Linked DNA regions of Homo sapiens: regions 2 and 3 are each linked to region 1. Evidence: fine-mapped expression QTL. A gene starts in region 1. Each other region holds a variant in brackets. All regions are shown on one strand. Distances are between the middles of the regions.

Region 1 (4,242 bases):
CCACTGAAAGCTTTTGCTTTTGTTCTAAATGTTTGGCATCTAGTAGGTAGTCTATAAGAGTCTTTAAAATCAGTGTGTTCATATCTACATGTTTGGGGGAAATAAAGCAAACAGCAACATGAAGGTGCTCCCAAGATTCTGTTCTGAAAGTTGTCCACCAAAGGGCACCAAAGTAAAACCAGCAGATGGCTCTGAACACACAGAGAGAGAAGGGGGGAGAGAGAATGGAGGGAAGAGGGACAGAGAGAGGGAGAGAGAAATGAGGGAGAGAGGGGGAGAGAGAGAGAGAGACAGAGAGAGAGGAAGAGAGAAAGGAGGGAGAAGGAGGGAAAGAGGGGGAAAGAGGGATAGAGAGGGAGGGAGAGAGGGAAAAATAAAACAAGAGAAGACAGAGGCTAGGTGAAATAGAGAAGTTGCCAGAGGACTTCTGGGAAAAAACATTTGAAAAGGAAGGACTGAAAAGAGAAGAAATGGGCACAACGGGGACTCCGGGTCTGGCCATAACAGCCAGGAGAAACAAGGGCTTAAGCCAGGAGGTCTGAAAAGAGAACAGAAGGTAGACCACCTAGAATGGGGACAAGGCACTTCCACTCTGCAAAGGTGAGTGTGCTTGCAGTGCAAAGCAAGAAACGTGAACTTTAAAATTCTTCAGGCACATGTGTTCAAAAGGCAAAGATACATGAGAATGCAAGATGAAAAACTCCAGCGCAAGATCAGGCTTTTTAAACTGCCACAGCTCCCCTGTCTCCCCAGCTAGCTTCTATTCGCCTTCCCAGGCTCCTAAGCCCAGTGACAGGAGAGACTCTGGAATGATCAGAGATTCTGGAATGAAAAGAGCTATGCCCACTGCTTAGGAGGCCAAGGATTCTGCAAACTGATCCCCGCAGATACCACAGCGCTTTACTCTGGTCTCCAAGGCCATGGCACACCCTAAAAGATTAAAATGCCTTAAGGTAAATGACCATTCCCAGATGAAGGCACAGAATGTAAACAAAGTGTGGGCCGAGGGAAGAAACTTGAAAAATCACAATAAAGTGGCCTCCCAGAGCAGGCAACTAGCAACTTTGTAGGAAAAGGAGAGGGAAGAAGTCCTGTGTTCTGCACTGAGAGATCATTTCATGTCACGCTTCAGTGCAATTAAAATAAAAAAGGATTTACTAATTACAAAGCAATCCTAACAAGGTACATAATACAGAATATTCACATCTTATACATCTCCTAGAGAAAGATTACAAACACAGAATGTTTCACCTTCCGGAGGAGATAATTATTAACTTTTAAAGACTAGCTCAGGCAAGAATGAAAAAGTATCAAGTCAAGGCCACATACATTCTAATTTTATAACCCAGGCGGCCCTGGATGGGATTCAGAGAGCTCTTATTTGAATAAGATCTGACGATATCCTCTCATTAAAAGGATTAGTGTTTCTGCACAAACGTCTAGATAAATCTTATTACTGGTCCAAAATTAGTCACCTAAAGGCTTTAGCCAGTTTTGCACAAATATTTACAACTCTGAAGAGGCTGAGTACTTTTTCTCTTGAAATCCAGGCACTATATCCACTTCAAAAGCCACATATGATTGTGGCTTTTGCTGAGCATATTTCTTTTCGACGAGTTGAAGATGACAATCTCTCAATACCTTACTCCATAGACTGGATGTAAGCGTCAAAAGAGGATGAAAAGGTACTTTCTGAACGGACAGGTACTCTGGGGTGATGGGTTGGGAGATTCTCTAAGCCTCAAGAACAGCGTTTCATGAAACGGGCTTATAAAATACAGCCCATCTCAAACGGATTTTAAAAGGCACCCAGTTACTTTAAAATACCCAATACAAACACCAAGACGGGCTATTTTACCAGGTCCCCTGCAGAATGTGAAGGGGCTTCCAGCGCTCCAAGCCGGCTTTCTAATTTAAGCCAAGAACCGAAAAGGAGCGAAGGCGGCTTCGGGGACCCCGGCAGCGTGCAGGGCCAGGAGGTTCAGCCTGCCCACCCGGAGAGGGGTGCGCCGAGCTCCTCTGGAAATAGTGACTGAAGGGTCCCCGCGAAGTCGCCGTGCCAGCCCCTCTCCCAGTTCCAGCGGTCCCCGAAGTCCCCGGGCAGAGCCGGCTGCACAGGGACCGGACGAGGCGAGGCGCATTCCGGGGCGCAGCCCCGAGGACGAAGGTCCACGGCTTCAGCCCCAGCCCACGGCCCCGACTCCCTGACGAAGACTCGCTGGAGCGCGGCCTCAGGGCAGCTGCGCGCAGCTGGACTCGTCCCCGGGAGCCCTCGACCCTCTAGTTCCCCGCCGGCCCCAGGGCGCCCTCGCCCCGCTCCTTCCCCGCCGGCCCCAGCGTCCGGGCTGCCCCTCGCCCGCGGCCTCTCGGCGGGGCTGGAGACCTAGCAACTTACTGGGGCTGGGTTGGGGTCGCGCCAAGAAGGCGGCGGTGGGCTGCCGGCTGCAGCGCGTCGGGGGCCCGCGGCTGGGGGACGCTGGAGCAGCGGCCGCCGCCTCGCTGGTCCCGCGAAGAGGAGCGCCCGCCGGCCGCGCTGCAGAAGGAGGGCTGGGCACGTGGGCGCCCCTCTGTGTAGCCACCCGGGGCGGGGGCGGGGCGCGGGGCCGGGCGGCACCGCCTCCTCCGCGCTCCCGGAACGCGACCCCGAGCCCGCCTCCCGCCGGGCCCCGGCCGCGCTGACCAATCCCCGGGGTGGGCGGTGTGCGGCCGCTGCTCAGCGGGGTTTGCCTGGAGCCGAGCACACGTGGGCGGGCGCTAGCCCCGGGCTAGGCCGGTGGGCGCGGGCCGGGGAAGAGAGGCTGCGCGCGAGGATAAACTTCGTGCTCTCCTGGGAGGACCAAACCTCAAGGGCATTTCCGAATCTTCTAAGCAGAGTTCTAAGTGGGGTTTTGGTCCCCCCGTTTACTTTCCATTCTACAAAGATTTTGGAAATAAGAAAATAATAATAAAATATAATAATAGCAATGATAAATGGAAGCCCAGGTGGATGTGCTTTGTCAAATGCAAACTAAACGTTGATAAATAATGTGCAGTTGCTATTTTGGAAGACTCCAGTGGTATGAATACGTAGTCACGATTGTTTGGGGGTGGGTTTATAGGAAATGACATTATTTCCAGGGGAGCAAGAGCAGAAGTTACACAATCAGGGTTTCTCCTACTGCGCTATTGTTTACTTTAGGAGTCTCTGATAAGATTAAGTCACAATGTGAAAGCCTGTTAATTTTCATCCAAAACGAAGCAAAACACGCACTGAATTGAACAATAAGTGTGTGTCAGTGTGTGTGTGTATATGTGTGTGTGGTTTGTCTTTAGAGACAGGGTCTCACTCTGTCGCCCAGGCTGGAGGGCAGTGACACAATCGTGGCTCACTGCAGCCTCGACCTCCTGGGCTCAAGCTATCCTCCCGCCTCAGCCTCCCAAAGTGCTGACAACTACAGGCTTGAGCCACCAGGCTGAGAATTACAGGCTTGAGCCACCATGCCCGGCCTATTACTATTTTTGTTTGACAGAAAGGTCCACTTTACTTTGCATAGTATTGGAGTAAACGTCCCTTTAACCCACCTACTAGTAATAACTTTGGCAAAGTGCCAGATTTGTATTGCTGCCTCACAGTACATATACAATTTTAATGTGATATTCTAAATCATTCTTCCCTTCAAGACATATATCCCCAAGATCATCTAATAAACGGTGTGGGGCTTCATTCCAGAAGATAGCACACACACAAAATCTCAATGTATCTCAGGAAGCCATCCATGGATTTCATCAAAAAGTGAAAGTGTAGGCTGGGGGTGGTGGCTCACGCCTGTAATCCCAGCACTTTGGGACGCCGAGGCGCGCCGATCACCTGAGGTCAGGAGTTCGAGACCAGTCTGGCCAACAGGGTGAAACTCCGTCTCTACTAAAAATACAAAAATTAGCCGGGCGCGGCGGCGGGCGCCTGTAACCCCAGCTACTCGGGAGGTTGAGGCAGGAGAATCGCTTGAGCCCAGGAGGCGGAGGTTGCAGTGAGCCGAGATAGTGCCACTACAGTCCAGCCTGGGCGACAGAGTGAGATTCCGTCTCAAAAACAAAAGCAAACGAACAAAAAAACTGAAAGTTTAAACAGCACTATGATTACGAAGATATTATCTGATAGACCAAATGTCTTAAGTAATAGAGACTGTCAAAGTAAACTTATTTTTACAGTCAAAAAAAGATTCCTTATGCAAATTATCATTAATAACATTAAGGGAAATGATG
Region 2 (4,242 bases), 110 kb after region 1:
TAGATGCTGGTACATCAGAATACCTGGGAAGAATGATCAGTGATATCTATCATATGAGACTGGTGACTGCTTTGGGAATGAAAGGAGGAACCTGTTTAGCCGGTAAGGTGGGGCTAGGTTGTGGAAGGCCCGGTTAGCAGCAGTGGGGAGATACTGTAGCTCTGAACAGAGAGTGACATGATCAGGGTGTATCTAGAGTGACTACTGTTTGAGTGCCATCCTGGGGACTAGACTGTGTGGCAGGATGTGCTGGGCTTTGGTCACCCATCATCCACTCTCCCAGGCTCCCTCTGAGGAGCCATGCCTGCTCTATGCTCAGTTTGTATGTTTTTTTGGTGTGTGGCGTACTGCCAATCCAGCTACCCAAATCATGTCATTTCATGACCACACTGAATGGTTTAGGGGTAAGCGTGTGACCAAGTGAGATGCAGTGATACTTGGCTTGGGCTCCAAGAAGGGCAGCTGGCGCTTTTCTTCATGGCCATGGATGTGGCAGGAGATGGGACAGGGGCAACTGGAGCCATCATGAGCAGAGCCTGCTGAGAGCCAGCAATGAGGGCCCAGCCAAGAGTTTGAGGGTGAGGAGCTGAGTGTTTTCAGCCCATCTCCCCTTCTGAAGCCAGCCCTATCACTGACCTTTGTAGACGTATGATCCAATAAAAGCCCTTTTGGCTCAAGCCATATGAGGTTGAGATTTCTGTCTCTTGCTCCTATAAGAGTCCTAGGAGATAGAGGTGGAATCAGATCATCTGTGGGCAGTATTACCAGTTAGGAACTTTTTGTTTTGTTTTTGAGACAAGGTCTCACTCTGCTGCCCAGCCTGCAATGCAGTGGCATGATCACGGCCCACTGCAGCCTTGACCTCCCTGGCTCAAGTGATCTGCCCTCTTTAGCCCTCTGATTAGCTGGGACTATAGGCATGTGCCACCATGCTTGGCTAATTTTTAAATTTTTTTGGTAGAGACAGGGTCTCACTGCATGATCTGGACTGGTCTCTAACTCCTGGGCTCAAGCAGTCCTCCTGCCTCAGGCTCCCAAAGTGCTGGGATTACAAGTGTGAGCCACTGCTCCTGGCCAGGAGAGTCTGATAAATAGTCTGGGTGCCTGGCACAGAGCAGGCACTCCACAATTTAGCAGATTTAATTAATTAAATTAAAAGGGCTTAAATTGATGGGCAGCAGCTGTCTAATTTTCACAAGGTTCTTTCACAAGTAGCTTGCTTTGTATTGTATTGACTATTAGGCCATTCTCACATTGGTATAAATAAATATCTGAGACCGGGTAATTTATGAAGAAAAGAGGTTTAATTGGCTCATGGTTCCAAAGTTTGTACTGGAGGCATGGTGGCATCTGCTGCCGGGAGGCCACAGGAAACACAATCATGGTGGAAGGTTAAGAGGGAGCAGATACTTCTTACATGGTAGGAGCAGGAGCAAGACAGAGACAGGGTAGGTGCTGTACCCTTTTAAACAACCACATCTCCTGAGAATGAACTCACCATCGTGAGGACAGTACTATATTAGTGTGTTCTCATGCTGCTAATTAAGACATACCCGCGATTGGGTAATTTATAAAGGGAAGAGGCTTAATGGACTCACAGTTCTACATGGCTGGGAAGGCCTCACAATCGTGGCGGAAGACGAAGGCAGAGCAAAGAGACTTCTTACGTGGTGGTGGGCAAGAGAGAAGGCTTATGCAGGGAAGCTCCCTTTATAAAACCATCAGATGTCATGAGGCGTATTCACTATCACGAGAACAGTCCAGGAATGACCCAGCCCCATGATTCAGTTACCTCCCACCAGGTCCCTCCCACGGCATGCGGGGATTGGGAGAGCTACAATTGAAGATGAGATTTGCGTGGGGACACAGCCAAACCATATCAAGTACCAAGAGGGATGGTGCCGAGCCATTCAGGAGAAACTGCCCCATGATCAAATCACCTCCCACCAGGCCCCACCTCCAACACTGGGGGTTACAATTTGACGTGAAATTTGGATGGGGACACAGATCCAAACGATATCAACTATATTAACTATGTTTTTGAAATAACTTAGTTTCACAGCAGAATGCAGTTTTTGAAGAATTAATTGTTTTAGGCAGCTTGAGAATAGGATTCTTTGCATGCCTCCCAGATATATCCCTGTGTGTGCATCCCACCAGCATTTTTTCTTCATTATACCAGAGGTATCTAAGGGATTTCGTGAAAGGTAGAGTCTCTGTTACTTCTGGTTATGTGTCATATATTTTCTTGGATTATGCTCAATTCTTCTCTAATCTCTGATGTTTGAATAAAATAGTCCTGGGAAAAGACTTTCAATGGTTTTTTAGCTGTAGAAAGATTAAATACTCCTTTTGGAAAAACAGTTGACGTTCTTTATTTCTCTGTCAAAAGGCTGAATTTAAAAACTCCTGAAGCTTCATGGTT[G/A]CCACCTTTTGTTTCAGTAACTTTATGTAAATAGGAAAAAAGTGCTTTCTTTTTAAATTGGAAAAACCAAATGCCCTTTTTCTGTAATTATAAGAGATCATGGCAATTCTACATTGTTTGGAGAATTTGCTATAGCTTCAGTTTTTCTTCTTGTATGTCAGAGTACTTTGCCAGCTATAATTGGGTAGTTTATATTTTTTGCATACTCTATTGTTTCTGTGAGTTTCACACAGGAGAAATGAAGTTGTGGACATGAGGTGGGAGCAAGAAGTAAAACTCTGAAGTCTGTGTTATGGATATGTTTGTTAATAATTATTTATTTATTTATTTTTTAGAGTTAGGGTCTCACTCTGTCATCCAGGCTGGAAGGCAGTGGCACGATCATGTCTGACTATAACCTCAAACTCCTGGGCTCAAACCATCTGCCCACTTCAGCCTCCTAAGTAGCTGGGCCTACAGGTGCCTGCCACTATGCCTAGATATTATTTTATTTTGTGTAGAGATGGGGATCTCATCTTGTTGCCCAGGCTGGTCTCGAACTGTCGGCCTCAAGTGATCTTCCTGCCTCAGCCTCCTAAAGTTCTGGGATTATGGGTATGAGCCACTATGCCCAGCCAATAACAATTATTTTTTAATAACTAGTGAGATGTATGCTTTTTTCCCCTCTCTCACACATGCAGTTAGTTACAGATGGGATCATTTGTCCAGGAACTCTGAACTCCAACTTGAAACATCTTTTTTTAGCAACCATTATACAGACAGTGACACCTGTCATAAATAAAAATGACTTGAGAATTTCTATATGGTAGATGTTTCTATAATTACTGCATTGCTGGTTAGAAGTGGGGCTTGGTTCCTGCATGGTTCCTCCAAAGCTGCAGGAGGCCTTTGAACCTTTCGATTTGAAACATGCTGGTGCACACTTCAGAGCTCCGCCCAGAGAATCCCTCGACCACCGGGAGAACCGAGTCTTTCGGGGATTTGCCCCTCCAGACAAGAGAAATGAGCAAGCAGGGAGGTCACATGGCCAGCCAAGCTGGTCTGTACCAGATACCAAATCTTTTAGCTGTAGCTAGAGCATTTAACTTGTTAAACATATTCCTCTCTAACTGAAATCTCAGGGACGATGGAGGAGAGACTGTTGAGCCAGGATGTTTTTCCTTCATTTGCAATATTAGACCCAGACTGAAGTGGTCAGGTATGGGAGAGATCCAGGGAAGTGGACACTTCTGGTTTGAAATCTGGCTCTGCCACTTTCTAGATGCGAGGCTTGGGCAGTTGATTGATTTTTCATGCTCTTCATGTCTTTGTCTCAGCTAAGGTTAGAAGTAGCATGTGGATAATACCTAGCACAGTATCTGATGCGCAGTAGTTGTGTGGTCAGTGGTAAAAGTATTTTCGTTGTTGTTATTACCCTTCCTCCTCTTGCTCCCTCTGCTTGAGGGAAGGGTTAAAAGGAACGCACCACAGTTACGCTGCCTCCTTTGCCATAAGCTTTTCTGAAAAATTCATCCTGGATTGCCTGGATTTGGCATCAGCACTTAGTTAAGTAGGGACTGAGAGGGTGGGCACTGTTTAAAGGTAAAACTGATGCCCAGAACCATCCTCCCAACCTTGGTATCTAAGAGCGGCTCCCTTCCCTGGGACCTTCCACACCCCCCAGGTGGTGGATGTGTCTTATCTGAGCTGCCAACAGGCCCTGGGATCCCGGCCCCCCCATATCTCGGAGGAACACCAGCCGCTCTCAAGACATTCTGTCCTGACAGTTTGGTGCCCTGTGAGTGCTTCTTACAGCCAATGCCCTGCACCCTCACTGC
Region 3 (4,242 bases), 110 kb after region 1:
ACTTCCATGAAATTTGAGAATAAAAAGAATTTTCTAAATCCAAACATTTCATTTGACCTACTCATTCACCTCCCTGCTGCACAATGAGTTTCAATATTTTTTCCTCTGGAGGAACTCTGCAAAGAATGCCTCCCTGTAACCCAACTCTAGTTCACACCCAGACTTTGGAGCATATTGTTCTTTAATAAAAACATTGATCTCGTCAAACACATGGATTTTAGGAAAGGTGTCAAGTTTCGCTCAGGAAGCCTCTGCAGTGGCCTATGAGGCAAAGCCTCAGTGACATCGCCCTAGATTCCTGAAAGAGAGTCTTTTTGGAATGAAAGTATGGAGAAGAAAGTGGGAAACACACTTTGGCTTTTTAGTGGAGGAAAGTAAGAGGGTTACATTTGTGCTGCCATGAAAGCTTTAAAAAGGGATGCAATTTTAAGGCACTGTACACCTTGAAACATTTATATGCTTGTGAGGAATGATAAAGACGTGAAACTGTAACCTCCTATGTAAGTCTACTTGAGCCATTATTTATTTATTTATTAGTAAATTTTGACATTTCCCTATTGAACTCACATTATTAACTGATTAGGTTTGGTTATCACTTCTGTCTTACATCTGGAGGAAAAACAGCATTTGGAATGCTTGTTTTCACAGATGTACATATATTTTCTCATCCTTATTTAAAGCTTATTTTTATTGCTTTTTTTCCCATTCTGAACAGGACAAGCTGTGAAGTACGCTTGAAATTAAACCTCTTGACCAGACACCCAAGATTCCGTGACTTTGTCCGTGTGATGGTTCAGTTTTATATTCTCATACTGCACTCAGAGGGAGTCCAAGAAGCTCATTTTGTACCATATTTCTTAGGCCAGGAAAAGTCTAAACTATTTTTCCTAGTGCCCTTTCCCCTGGTGGACAGCTAGTTGAAGCCTCTGGGAGTAAAAGTACTTCCCAGGACATAAACCCAACCCTTCCTCCCACAACCATTTAAAATGGTTTAAAAATAACCCCCACTTAATGTTTTGTGGCAGGCTATGACAACTTTATAAAAATTGTATGTTTACTTTTCTCCTCTTTTTCATTTATTAAAACACTGCTTATCATAGATTCCCGGAGAAATAAATTTATTGCCAAGCTGTGAAAGTAAATTTTACTCCTTAGGGCCTGTAGCAAAGCACACATTACTTAGAACAAGGTACAGTTGATCTGTGCAAGTTGCGGTGAACTGTTCACCCAGTTTGAGTAGTGGTAGTTTAAGGAAGGGATTCTGCCTTTTAAGCTAAACGGATACATTTAAAGACCCTATTGATGCATATATCCTTTCACTTGTACATTCTGGAAGTATTCCTTGAGTGCTTTCTCTATGCCAGTTTTAGGCCCTGGAGATCCAGTGGTAAATAAGACAGACAGTGGCCCTAGTTTCATGGAACTTACCGTGTAGTAAAGAATTTGTAAAAATTCTTTAGTAAAAAAATAATATTGCAGTTCTTTAAAACAATATATATGTCATCACTGTAAGCTAAGATTTTGGAAAATCTCCCATTTTTAAAAGATTTTTTCCCAGATCCTGCCACCCTCCCCCTGTAAACCTTCCAGTTGCTTCCTACCCTACTCAGAGTGAAAGTCAAAGTCATAACGTTGTCCCGGCAGGCCCTACAAGGTTTGTCCATCTACTGGGCACCTCATCTCCTACTTGTTTCCCCTCACAGATGCTGATCCAGAAGTCCTCACGTCCTCGTAGACCCTTGACCACATCTACCTGTTCCTGCCCAGGGTCTTGTCATTTGTTGTTCCCTCTGCCTGGAATGCTCTCCCCAGATACCCCCATGGCTGGCTTTCTCACTCATTCTGGTTCTCTACTGAAATATCTAATTATGTTATTAGAGAAGACTTCCCTGGGCACCTGATATGGTCTGGCTCTGTGCCCCCACCCAAATCCCATCTTGGATTGTAATCTGAATTGTAATCCCCACGTGTTGGGGGAGGGACCTCACGGGAGGTGACTGGATCACAGGGGTGGTTTCCCCTTACTACTCTGGTAAGCGGTAGTGAGTTCTCATGAGAGCTGATGATTTCATAAGGGGCTCTTCCCCTTTCATTCTGTACTTCTCTCTCCTGCTCCCTTGTGAAGAACGATGTGTTTGCTTCCTCGTCTGCCATGATTGTAAGTTTCCTGAGGCCTCCCCAGCCATGCAGAACTGTGAGTCAATTAAACCTCTTTCCTTTATAAATTACCCAGTCTTGGGTACTATCTTTATAGCAGTATGAGAAGGGACTAATACAGTATCCTGCTGGCCCTCCTCACTCAACTGCTTATCCTGCTTTAATTTCCTCTCTAGGAATCTTCTGGCACACATACGTGGTGATACAGTTCCACCATATCTTATGCCAAATTGTAATCCCCAATGTTAGCGGTTGGGCCTGGTGGGAGATGGTTGCATGATGGGGGTGGATTTCATATGAATGGTTTAGCACCATCGCCT[T/C]GGTGCTGCTCTTGTGATAGTGAGTTCTTTTGAGATCTGGTTGTCTAAAAGAGTGTGGCACCTCCTCCCTCACTCTTTCTTGTTCCTGCTCCCACCATGTGAGAAGCTTCACTCCCCCTTTGCCTTACACCATGATTGGAAGCTTCCTGAGGCCTCCCCAGAAGCAAAAGCCGCTCTGCTTCCTGTACAGCCTGCAGAACCACGAGCCGATTAAACCTCTTCTCTTTATAAATTACCCAGTGTCAGTTATTTCTTTATGGCAGTATAAGAACAGGCTAATACATGAGGGATTTCTTTTTTTTTTTTTTTAACATATTCCCTGTTTCCATGCTTTCCCACCTTCAAGCAGAAGGTACAAACTCCATGTGAGCAGTGACTTTATCTTCCCAATTCATGTGCCCCCAGCACTCAGAACACTCTATGTCTGGTACAGAGTAAAGGTGCACAATAAATATTTGTTGTATGAATGGATAAAGGAAACGGTTTAATGTGACTTGGTGTCGAAGCTTCAGTATCTTTCAATATCTTTCAACAAACATGTTTTTTTTTCTCCTCCAGTATTCTCCATTTTAGTTATATGGCCCTACTTTTCACATTTGCAGATGAAGTTTTGTTTTATTTTTTCCCCGTCTCTGCTCTGTTTCCTGTATGTGCAACATCTTCCACAGCTGAATCTTTCCTAACTTCCTGTCTGAAAAGTCAAATTCAATAATAAAGCATTCTGGGTTAATCATACTTAATTCTACCTATAAGCCATCACATAATTTATTTTTACCATAGTACTGTTAATTTTCATTCATTGAACAAATACTTAGCATCTGTGCTTGGCATCAGGCTACAAAGATAGGCAAAAACATTAGTGCCAATCTTCAAGGATCCTGCCACCGAGGGTTGCTGTGATGTTCTGAAGTGTGATCATTGTTGTTTCAGGAAGCCAGTAAGCCAAGGACCGTGTGTCTCTTTTCCTTTCTTCCCACAGTTCTAGTGTGAGTGTTTGCCTAGCATTGTTCATTGTGCTGCAGGGAATATTAGGAATAAAATAACTTGGGTTCCCATGAGAATATGATTGTGGTAATGGTTAGAGTGTACAGTAAAGATAGCGTGTAATGAAGTAGTGTAGGATAAGTAGAAACCAAGTAGTGATCAGAGAGGTCACAGCAATTCAGAGGACAGTGAATGATCCCAGTGGACTGGGGTAGTTGAGGAAAGGTGTTATTAAGGAGGTGGATCTTGGGTGTCAGGCTGGAGGTGAGTATGTTGCACTTGGTGAGTGGCAGTGTCCTTTTCTTACTGTTCTTGGTGACCTCAGAGTGCACTGTGGCAGGCAATCATGCAGCTTTGCTTATTGGGCCTCAGAAGAGGCCTCCACATCATTGGGTCTGCAAGGCATTCTGCTTTATACTCATTTCCCAGAGTGGGAATGATGGACACTTTAGGGCCGGACTGTAAGAGGAGAAAGAGAAAAATATGGTGCCAATTATGCAGTCTGTCCTTGGGGTCTTCGAAGCCGAGGAGTGAGGCATGGGAATGTGTAAATGAGCTGGAACCTGGCCTTGGCCTGGGTGGACAGAGTGTACCCCTTTGTCCTCTGGCACTGGTACTTGCCAGGGGTTGGTGGGAGGGAGAGCATGAGACTTGGGTCTCTCTGTGCCTGGGCTTTCTCCTCCCTTTGGTTAGTAAGTTCTATTTGGCACAACTTGCCCTTGGAAAAATATTTCCCCATAGTTCCCAAAGAGCTATATAAGTAGATGGTTTCGTCCTTTGC

Direction of the effects. Positions count from the first base shown, and alleles are read on the strand shown. Sizes are in standard deviations (SD) of each study's normalised expression. Not every link is listed here.
With allele G in place of A in region 2, the expression in unexposed skin of the gene that starts at base 2,545 in region 1 is lower (small effect, 0.29 SD a copy in GTEx).

What was found. PIP is the estimated chance that this variant, and not a neighbour inherited with it, causes the effect.
Region 2: its variant is the best candidate, but not a certain one, in a credible set for the expression of SLC7A2 in unexposed skin (GTEx, PIP 0.79).
Region 3: its variant is the best candidate, but not a certain one, in a credible set for the expression of SLC7A2 in thyroid (GTEx, PIP 0.55).

What each region holds. Positions count from the first base shown.
Region 1 is chr8:17,495,391-17,499,632 of GRCh38, reverse strand. SLC7A2 (solute carrier family 7 member 2) reads right to left here and starts at 2,545. Exons shown (of 13, transcript NM_001370338.1): 1 at 2,396-2,545.
Region 2 is chr8:17,382,928-17,387,169 of GRCh38, reverse strand. All of the region lies in intron 1 of MTMR7 (myotubularin related protein 7), which reads left to right. Among named protein-coding and RNA genes, the nearest start is that of MTMR7, 28 kb to the left of the region's middle. The variant G/A (reference allele first, on the strand shown) is at 2,426.
Region 3 is chr8:17,388,618-17,392,859 of GRCh38, reverse strand. The region is part of intron 1 of MTMR7 (myotubularin related protein 7); the gene reads left to right. Among named protein-coding and RNA genes, the nearest start is that of MTMR7, 23 kb to the left of the region's middle. The variant T/C (reference allele first, on the strand shown) is at 2,478.